Regions from separate parts of the Homo sapiens genome. Here region 1 is linked to region 2. The links come from fine-mapping of genetic effects on gene expression. Tissue or cell type: whole blood. Region 2 holds a variant in brackets; the other region holds the start of a gene. All regions are shown on one strand. Distances are from middle to middle.

Evidence for each region. PIP is the estimated chance that this variant, and not a neighbour inherited with it, causes the effect.
Region 1: ADAM15 starts here. The variant in region 2 is fine-mapped to the expression of ADAM15 in whole blood (INTERVAL, PIP above 0.99).

The regions. Positions count from the first base shown.
Region 1 is chr1:155,048,266-155,053,265 of GRCh38, reverse strand. ADAM15 (ADAM metallopeptidase domain 15) reads right to left here and starts at 1,950. Exons shown (of 23, transcript NM_207197.3): 1 at 1,801-1,950; 2 at 489-595. The coding sequence starts at 1,879. It overlaps DCST1 (DC-STAMP domain containing 1), which reads right to left. Exons shown (of 17, transcript NM_152494.4): 17 at 2,336-2,649. The coding sequence ends at 2,398. DCST1-AS1 (DCST1 antisense RNA 1) reads left to right here. Exons shown (of 4, transcript NR_040773.1): 2 at 3,905-3,997. ADAM15-EFNA4 (ADAM15-EFNA4 readthrough) reads right to left here and starts at 1,950. Exons shown (of 26, transcript NR_176418.1): 1 at 1,801-1,950; 2 at 489-595. RefSeq lists a silencer at 1,786-2,245 and an enhancer at 2,716-2,775.
Region 2 is chr1:155,468,588-155,473,587 of GRCh38, reverse strand. The region is part of intron 3 of ASH1L (ASH1 like histone lysine methyltransferase); the gene reads left to right. Among named protein-coding and RNA genes, the nearest start is that of ASH1L-AS1, 91 kb to the left of the region's middle. The variant T/C (reference allele first, on the strand shown) is at 3,090.

The sequences.
Region 1 (5,000 bases), 420 kb after region 2:
TGGAGCATTGTTCTGGGGGGTTGTGTGCGGAGGTCAAGGAAGGTATCTGAGCCACCCCTTCTCGGCTTCCTGCCCAGAGAGGAAGCACCGTGTAGGACCCAGCACAAGCCCCAGCCCTTCCTCTGACTCAGCTTTAGAATGGGGTGGGGGGGGGGGGGTTTGGTAAGGTCCTGACTCTTTCCAAATCCCCCCACTGAGAAAACCGACAACATGAGATGAAGAAAGCAAGTTTGGCTTCACAATTTCCCCAGTGGAGATGGATGGGTTGGGTGGGGCTGAGGCAGACAGATACACGTGTGTGCAGAGGGAGAGGGAGATAAGTGAAGCCAGGTGCTGGGGTGTGGTGGGAGAGGCAGCTGGGCCTGGGATAGACCCACTACAGTGAGCTCTACCCACCAGCTCCTCAGCCAAGCTTTGGCTTTGAGACACCTGGCTATACCGGGGCGTGTGTGGATTCGTTTATTTATTAGAGGGGAGTGAGAGCTCACCTGAAGCACCTTTTTGAGGCTAATTGGGAGATCGTCCTGAAGGACCTGGGGCTCCAAGGGCTCCCTCGGGGCCTTCTCTGACTCTGCCTGCTGCTCCTCAGTGCCACCTGCAGGTCCCAGGACACCCCAAGACAGTACTGAGGGAATCGACAGCAGGGCTGGGGGTGACAGGTGCCCTCAGATCCACCAGCTCCCAGCCCATCAAGACCCTTAGGTACCTGAGGGGCTTCCACATTGCATGCTGAGACTTAAAGAAGAATACTGGAAGGAGAGGGTGTCTCTCTAATTTATGGCTTTCCACCCACCAACCCATTCACAAGTCCCCAAGAAAGACTTTCGGCTTGCGCAGCCTGTGGCCCTCCTTGTCCCCTTCCGGCCAATCCCAGGTTCTCACAGGACCCTCCCCGGTTCCCACTCCCTCCCAATCACTCTCCCCCCACTTCAGGAACGCCCCCTCTCGAGACTGAGCTAAGCCTTGTGGCCGGGTGCCCGCTCACCCTCCCCTTCGCTCACATCGGAGATGCCAGGAACGCCCATTTCTGGGTGAGCAGTGCAAACACCCCCACCTCCCTAAACACCCTCATGCCCAGTCAGGCACACCCGCTGCCTACAGCCTCTGCTTCCTCCTCGAGCACCCCCCACCCCCCCAACACACAATGGCCCTCTCTCCTCCGGACACTCCACCCGCGCCTGCCCTCTCGGTCCCGGCCCAAGACAGCAGCGGGAAGTGAAAGTTCCAAGGAGGAGTTGGTGTCCCAGCCTCTTTCCTGGCCAATTCTCCCTTCTCCTGGCTCATCTCGGGCCCCTCCCGCTCGGCCAGGCACTGGTGGCAACAGCACCAGGGTGAGGAGTGCCTGGCGGCCCCAGGCCTGGAATAGAGGCTAGAGAGAATCCTCTTCACTAAACCCTACAAGCCATGCCCGCTCAGCGCCCTGGCACCGGGTCGAACGGTTAGCTAGGCCCCAGAGCAGCGAAGATGCCAGTCCTGGGGAGCAGCGACCCTCTCATCACGATCTTGAAGTGGCGCTGGACAGGCCCCTCGGTACCTGGTACCTGAGCCTGAAAGTGTCCGCAGGGACCGCGCAGAGGATGACCAGGCAGGAGGCAGGGGGCGCCGGCATCCCCCCTCCTTCTCTTTTCACCCCATCGCCAAGTCACCGGGCCCTAGGCCCAGGACAGCGGACCAGGGCGGGCCGCGCTCTGGCTGGGCTCTCCCAGGGTCTCCGTCCGGCCCCATTACCCTAATGCCTTCCGACTTTCCTGCACCTCCCTCCCAGTCCGCCCCCCGACCCACTCCAGGCGGAGGACTCACCTATATTTGGGAGCGGCCAGGAAGGCAGAGGGCTGCCCGCGCCCAGGAGCCCCAGGGCCCAGAGCAGCGCCAGCCGCATGGCAGCGGCGCTCCGGGCCGGGCGAGGGCAGCAAGTGCGGAACAGCGCGCGGAGGAGCGGCCGGCGGCCAGGTCGCCTCGGAGAACCCAGCAGCGCCGCGCGGCCACCAGGCCCCGCCCCGGCCCGCCCCCTCCCACCCGGCCCCAAGCCAAGCTCCGCCCCCGGCAAAGCCCGCCCCGCTGCGCGCCGGGTGCCTCGGGAGCGGGGACACCGCCCACTACGCCCGCGCTGCTCAGCGCTACCGCTTCCCCGCAACTGTGCGGAGTGGGAGCCGGTGCCCGGTCCGACCGGCTTGGGCGGCGCGCCTTCACCCGGCGCCAGGTCCGGACCCCTCCCTAGTAGCTTCGCGGCCTCCCTGCCTCCTGTGCGCGGCCTGGCTCGGAGAGGTCGGGCGGGCAGGCTTTCCCGACTGCAGGCGAGGCAGTGCGCGGCTCACCCCAGTCCCCGACCCACGTGAAGCGTACAGGGCATTTTATTAACCGGGAAGGACGGTGCGGAAGAGCGAGCAGGACGCCTCTTCACCCCGCGTAGGCAGTGTCGTCGTTGCTGTCACTAAAGGCGGAGGAAGAGAGCTCTTCGCGGGGCGTGCAGACCGGGCACCGCTGCCGCATGTCGTCCCAGCACGACCAGCAGTACACGGCCTCGCAGTCCAGCGTCCGGCACACGTAGGACTCGGGCGTCTCGGGTGCCTGGCACACCACGCAGCGCCGGCACAGCCAGCGGCGCAGGAGCGGGCAGCCGCGGTGCAGGATATCCGCCAGCGGGTGGCGCTGTTGGGAGGTGGGCGTTAGCGCCAGCCCGGGAGCGAGGCGGGAAAGAAGGGGAACTGGACAGCGTTTCCTGTCTGAAGTCGCCAGGCCTGACAATTCCCGCGTGTTGGAGGAGGCTGGGTTGGACAAAGGAAACCCCTGGAGGGCGAGGGTGCCTCCCTCCCCAACTCTGTGATGGAGAATGGGAGGATGCACCCTCCAGGCTCTCTCCAAGCGGATATCAGCCACAACTCTCATTTGCACTTTCCTGTAAATCATCTTATTTGGTTCTCACAGTGAGGCTGAGAAGTGAGCAGGCCAGATCGACTATCACTGTTGCTATCCCCACTTTACAGTTGAGAAAGGTGAAGTGACTCTCAAAGTCACACAGATAGTAAACAATCCAACTTGGCTGGACCCCAGGGGCCCTGATTCCAAACCACAAACCTAGTTCACTATGCTCCCTGCCATCCCTCACGACATGTCTCTACACAGTTGTCAGGGATTTTCCACAGGCCACCTTACCCAGGAAGCAGCCACTCTTTGCCCAAGAAACTCCAGAGGCCCTGCTGCCTGCCAGACAGGCAGAACTCTTGGGCTTGGCCTTCAGAGCCTTCCCTCACCTGGTCCCTTTCTAGCCTCTTTCCTACTTTAGCCCTCCCTGAGAGCTGTCTCTTCTGAGCCAGTTTCTCCTGAGACTAGCCCTGGCACTTCGCATTCCCTGTGGACTGAGTCTTTGCACATTCTGCTTGGAATGACTGTCTGGCACATTTCCATCTGTGCATTCACATTCAGTTTGCTTCACGACCCTGTCAAGGAATCCCAGCATGTTCTTTTTTGTTTTTTGTTTTTCATTTTTTCACAACACATTCATTTGGCCCCTATTGTGTGTCATGGGGGCTGGGGGTATCCAGGCCCTAGGGAAAAAGCTAAGCAAACACAGTCTCACTTTTATGAACTTTGTTAGGACTGATTAAATAAGAATGGCTGCCACTCATTGTTTATAATGTCAGGTCCTGTACTAAGATACTGTACATAAATTATTTCAATTCTAAATTAGCCGGGCGTGGTAGTGTGTGCCTGTAATCCCAGCTACTCGGGAAGCTGAGGCACGAGAATCGCTTGAACTGGGGAGGTGGAGGTTGCAGTGAGCCAAGATCACGCCACTGCACTCCAGCCTGGGCGACAGAGTGAGACTTAGTCTCAAAAAAAAAAAAAAATTCAATTCAATTGTCATGTAAGGCAGATAGTGTTATTATCATCTCCTTTTTTTCAGGTGAGAAAACTGATGCTTGGAGATGTGATCACTGCCCAGGGTCACCCAATGATAACATGCATGCATATGGAACTTGCTGCATGCCAGCACCATGTAAGTACAACTCATTTAATCCTTAAAACAACCAGATGGAGTAGTTAACCCCATTTTATGGAAGGCAAAAGCCCAGGCACAGCAGTTAAGTCATGTGCTCAAGGTCACACCGTTGTCATAGTAATGAGGGAAGGAGCCGGGATACACACTTAGGCCCTCTGGCACCGGAGTCCCACACCTGACCACCACTCTAGGCTGATCTCCAGTGAGCAGGCCTTACAGATCTCTCCAGTCTTGCCATTCTTCAGAGGGAGAAACTGAGGCTCAGTGAAGACCTTGGCCAAGGTGACACAACTTAATGAGGGAGTATGGACTGGAGTCTGCTTCCTCAGATTCCATGTGCCTTACCATGTGCCCCTGCATGAGGCCTTCCTGACTCCCAGCCCACCTGCCTCCTCCTGTCCCTTGAACTGCACTGAGCTTCTGGTCTGCAGCCCTCTGGTAGAAACTTTGGTTTTGCCTTGGGCCTCCTGTTTCTGTGCGGCCCTCTTGCTTTTCTATGAGCAGACTGTATTAAATCTCATTCTCCTTTTCTGCCTGCTTCCTAATGGTCCACTGAGTGTCTTAGGCTGGGCTGAATCCTGGGATTCAGAAACGGGCACAGCCCTGACCTTAGGAGCTGGATGGCTGGGGCCCTCAGCATGTGTTGCATCAGATTACACCGGGCTTGGCTGGGCTTGGTGGCTCACGCCTGTAATCCTAGGACTTTGGAAGGCTGAGGTGGGCAGATCACCTGAGGTCAGGAGTTTGAGACCAGCCTGGCCAACATGGTGAAACCCTGTCTCTACTAAAAATACAAAAAAATAGCTGGGCGTGATGGCGTGTGCCTGTAATCCTGGCTACTTGTGGAGTGGGGGGCTGAGATAGGATAATCGCTTGAACCTGGGAGGCAGAGGTTGCAGTGAGCCGAGATCGTGCCACTGCACTCCAGCCTGGGCGACACAGTGAGATTCCATCTCAAAAAATAAAAAGAACTTACCAGGCTCGAGTAGGCCTGCGACCA
Region 2 (5,000 bases):
GAGTTCAAGGCTGCTACTGTAAGCTGTGATCGTGCCACTTCACTCCAGCCTGGGCTGGCAGAGTGATACTCTGTCTCAAAAAAAAAAAAAAAAAATAGAAATACTACAATAAATATAGGCATTAACCTTCCAGGAAAAGATGAAGGTCGCTTGTAGGGATATAAAGAAGGGTTGAAGCTGCTCAACTGTAGGCACAGAAGGATGTCATTGGTAGATAAATGTAGCAATGCCAGACATAGCTGGTTCTAGTGTATTGTACCTGTTTGTTTCTTTTGTACAAACATTGAGAGAAGCCACACAATAAAAACACTTGCAGAAAAGTCTGTTGCCAGTAGGAGCCAAGAGGAAGAATGTGGATGAATGTACATTTTGAACAGAACTACATTGCTTATGGCTTTCTTCATTTAGTTTGTGTTGGTGTACTCCTTCGTTCAGCTGCTAGTTTTGTCCTGCAAAATATTTATGTGCTTTAAAAGTCATGTATTAACCAATACAACTTCCATATTCTGGTATCATTCTTGTATTTATCAATGATACAAGAGCTATTTAACTATATAGAAACACATACAATAACAAAACATACTGTATACCTTTGTGAATTTTTATATGTATAATCATGAGAGTAATGATATTTTCCTTGGGAGAGAATAGGGAGTGAAAAACAAACAGCCTTGGGTAGCTCTGAGGAACTGCAGTATTTAAAGTAGTGCTTAAAAAACTGTCAGCTTTTGGCCCACATGTGATTCTTTGTGATGATCTCTACACTTTTTAAAAAATTGCTCATATTAAAAAATGTAGCAATTTTACATAAAAATGTGGAATTCTGCTTCTCAGAAAAATCAGAACATCTGGCAACAATTAGTCCACATTTCGTGGATAATAGGGATGGCTGGGGCTCAGTATTGGCAGGCCCTTTTTCATTGCTGCTTGTATTCTTTTGTTCGCCACAGTCCTCACTGTTTTCTGTTGTGTGTTGTATCTGGCCCTCTTCAGCTATTTAAAGAGGGAACTTTTGGATTTGAGATCCCTAATTTCAGAGTCATGAGAAGGAGATTATAAAGGATGAGTAAATTGAGGTGAAGGTGATATGAGATGACAGGTTAGGATGTTGAATGTATCATCTACATGGACATTGAAATTACCCAAGAGGACAGTTACAGAAGTTGGGGTGAAAATGGTGGATGTGAACCTGGTTTCAGGGTCCTTGGGGAATGAGAAAGATAGCAGGGAAGTTTATGCAAAAGTACCTGTGTTAAGTACGAATTTGTCTTTTTAAAAATTTCCTTCTTTATTTATTTGAGATGGAGTCTCTCTCTGTCATCCAGGCTAGAGTTCAGTGGCGTAATCTAGGCTCACTGCAAAACCCGCCTCCTGGGTTCAAGCTGTTCTCCTGCCTCAGCCTCCGAGTAGCTGGGATTGCAGAAGTGCACCACCACATTTGGCTAATTTTTGAATTTTTTGTAGAGTCGGGGTTTCACTGTATTGGCCAGGCTAGTTTCAAACTCCTGACCGCAAGAGAACCACCTGTCTCAGCCTTCCAGAGTACTGGGATTACAGGTGTGAGCCACTGCACTTGGCTTTTTTTCTTCTTTATAAAATAACATACAGAAACCACAAAGACCTCTCTGAAGTCACTGCTCTGACACTAGTTCTCTATCACCAATTGGATGTTGTACAATTTAGTTCAATTCTGAATACAAATTACCTGAAGCTAGTGAAGACCTCAAGTTAAGAGCAGAGTTCATCATGAGACTGCAGATGCCAGTCACAAATTTTGGTGTTCCTGAGACATCCATACTTCTGCCTGGCCTGCTAAAAATTTGCAACTTCGTGCAACCCCCTCAATTTTGGTAACTTGTTAAAAGGACTCACAGAACTTGTGAAAGCACTATAGTATGATTACAGTTTTGTTACAAAGGATGCAGATCAAGAACAACTAGTTGAAGAGATACATAGAGCAGTGTTTGGTGCAAGAAGGGTCCACAGACCTCCATGCCTTTCCCCTTGTGGAATCCGGGCACATTGCCCTCCCAGCACATCACTATATTCACCAACCTGGAAGCTCCAGTGAACCTCAGTGTCCAGAGTTTTTATTGGGGCTCTGTTAGGTAGGCCGGATTGATTAGATCATTGGCCATGTTTTTTAATTCAATTTTCAGTTCTCCACTCCCTTGAGGTTGGGGTGACCCAAAGTTTCAGATTTTTAATTATGTGATTTGGTCTTTCTGGTCACCGGCCCCCATCTTGAAGTTACCTCAGGCTTTCATCTCACTGTCGTAACAGAGACATTCCTGTCACTTGGGTAATTACAAGGGTTTTTGAAACTCTGTGCCAGGAACCAGGGACAAAGACCAGCTATATTCTTTACTTGATCATAAGTCTAAATTCTTTTGTTAATTGTTCTCTATCTTGGAATCTCTCCATCTTCTTCACAATTACTGTTGATAAGTACATGGAGATGTGACTTGATTTTCTAATAGAAACTTAATATACTTTTTTCAGGTAGATGTGAGAATAGGTTTAGTTGTCTTAACAAAAACCAGTCGAGGAAAAGTTTTTAGTTAAGCAGAATACTAAATAAAAATATTAATTCAGGCTCAGATATCTTTTGTTTTGATCCCTTTGAAAGTCAGAACTGGTTTTGTTTAGGAGTATTTTATGTATTTGATTTTTATTCTTAACTATTCCCTTATGATGGTAGCTGTTCTTTCAGCAAACAGTTATTTTGTGCCTATTGTGTGCCAGGAGAAGGAACATGCTGTAATTCCAGCACTTTGGGAGGCCGAGGTGGGTGGGCCACTTGAGGTTAGGAGTTCGAGATCAGCCTGGCCAACATGGTAAAACCCTGCCTCTACTAAAAATACAAAAATTAGCCAGGCATGGTGGCACATGCCTGTAGTCCCAGCTACTCGGGAGGCTGAGGCACAAGAATCACTTGAACCCAGGAGGTGGAGATTGTAGTGAGCCGAGATTGCACCATTGCACTCCGGCCTGGGCAACAGAGCGAGACTCTGTCTCAGAAAAAAAAAAAAAAAGGTAATTTCTGCTTTAAAGTTGATTTATAGTTTAGACATGTATATGAATAGTTA[T/C]TGACAGTTTTTTTTTTTGTTTTTTTTTGTTTTTTGTTTTTTGAGACAGACTCACTCTGTTGGCCAGGCTGGAGTGCAGTGGCACAATCTTGGCTTACTGCAACCTCCGCCTCCCAGGCTCAAGCAATTCTCCTGCCTCAGCCTCCTGAGTAGCTGGGATTACAGGTGTGTGCCACCATGCCCAGCTAATTTTTGTGTTTTTAGTAGAGACGGAGTTTCACCATGTTGACCAGGCTGGTCTCGAACTCCTGACCTATGGTGATCCACCCGCCTCGGCTTCCCAAAGTGCTGGGATTACAGGTGTGAGCCACCGCGCACAGCCTGACGGTTCTTAATATTGAGATACTTACAAGGCATTTTGGGGAGCAGAGAAGTGAGGGACTGACTTTAAAGGTCTTGGGAAGGAGGAGGGAGTTTTGAATTTAGCAGCGAAGAATAATGTGTGACACGTGTTTCTTACACTAGATATCAGCTTTGCAAGGGCATGGGGATGTGTTACTGTGCTTAGTTAAGTGTTAATGGTTTGATATGGGACCCAAGAGATGGGACTGGAAAGATAGGCAGATCATAAAGTCCTCGTTTATATGAGACTCCCAAGAGTATAGAGTTTACTTTATAAGGTATGAGAAGTTAAGGGTTTTAAGATGGGGAATAATTTGTTGAGATTACATTGACAGCAGTGTGATAGATGGATTAGTGAAAAGAGATCAGGTAGATCAGTTTGGAAACTGCTCCCACAAAATATTATGAGGCTCTTATTATGAGGCTCTGAGCCAAGGTAGAGATGATGTGATTAAGTGAAATGAGATATGCAAAAGGATAAGGTTGGAAATAGGTAATAAATTTGGATTTCAAGCCTGTTTTGTAGGACAGATGGATCTGTAGCTCAAAGGAGAGGTAAAACCTGAAGATAATTATAGATACTTTATTATTAAGGCTATGAGAAGGAATGACAATATTTATGGTGAATTCAGTGGGTTTCTTAAGTGAGTTTATTATAGTCAAGAGTGTCAAGTGGGTGGACGTGGTGGCTCACGCCTGTAATCCCAGAACTTTGGGAGGCTGAGGCGGGCAGATCACCTGAGGTCGGGAGTTCAAGGCCAGCCTTACCAACATGACGAAACCCCATCTCTACTAAAAATACAAATAATAGCCGGACGTGGTGGCACATGCCTATAATCCCAGCTATTCAGGAGGCTGAGGCAGGAGAATTGCTTGAACCTGGGAAGTGGAGGTTGTGGTGAGCTGAGATCACGCCATTGCACTCCAGCCTGGGCAAGGAGAGAAACTCCGTCTCAAAAAAAAAAAATTAATTAATTAAAAAAAAGAGTGTCAAGTGTTATGGGAGATTGGTTAGGTAAGTACTGAAAGTGGATGATTGGCTTTGGCGGTTAGTTTGTCTTGTGTCTGAGAGCCATTTGTATAGTGGCAAATGTTAGATTTCTGGAGGCTGAGGAATGGAAGTTAGGAAATGCAGACAATTAAAATTCTTACACCTTTACATTTTGCTATTTTTTCCTCAGTGTTTTCTTTTGTAGCACTTCTGACTGGTTTATTATTTGCTTTTTCCTTACAATGACATTGTTATTCTATAGCATTCTGTTGAAGATGTAATTACATTTTCTCAATCTGTGATGTCAGGTTGCTTTTTGAAGTATAAAGGTTTAAGAAATACATAATTACATATGATTTTTAAGTGATCTTCTCGGTCTTCAGTTGATTTTTTCCATATATAAATTTAAGGTAGATTCATTTTACATTTGGTATCATGTTAAAATGCTCCCAAAACTACCTACTGTATAATAGGTATTGCAATATTGTTGATCACCTTCAGGATATTATTATCCTGAAATGTCTCCCAGTGGTCCAAGCTGGGACAGTTTGAGCAACAAAATAAATATGAGAGGATTG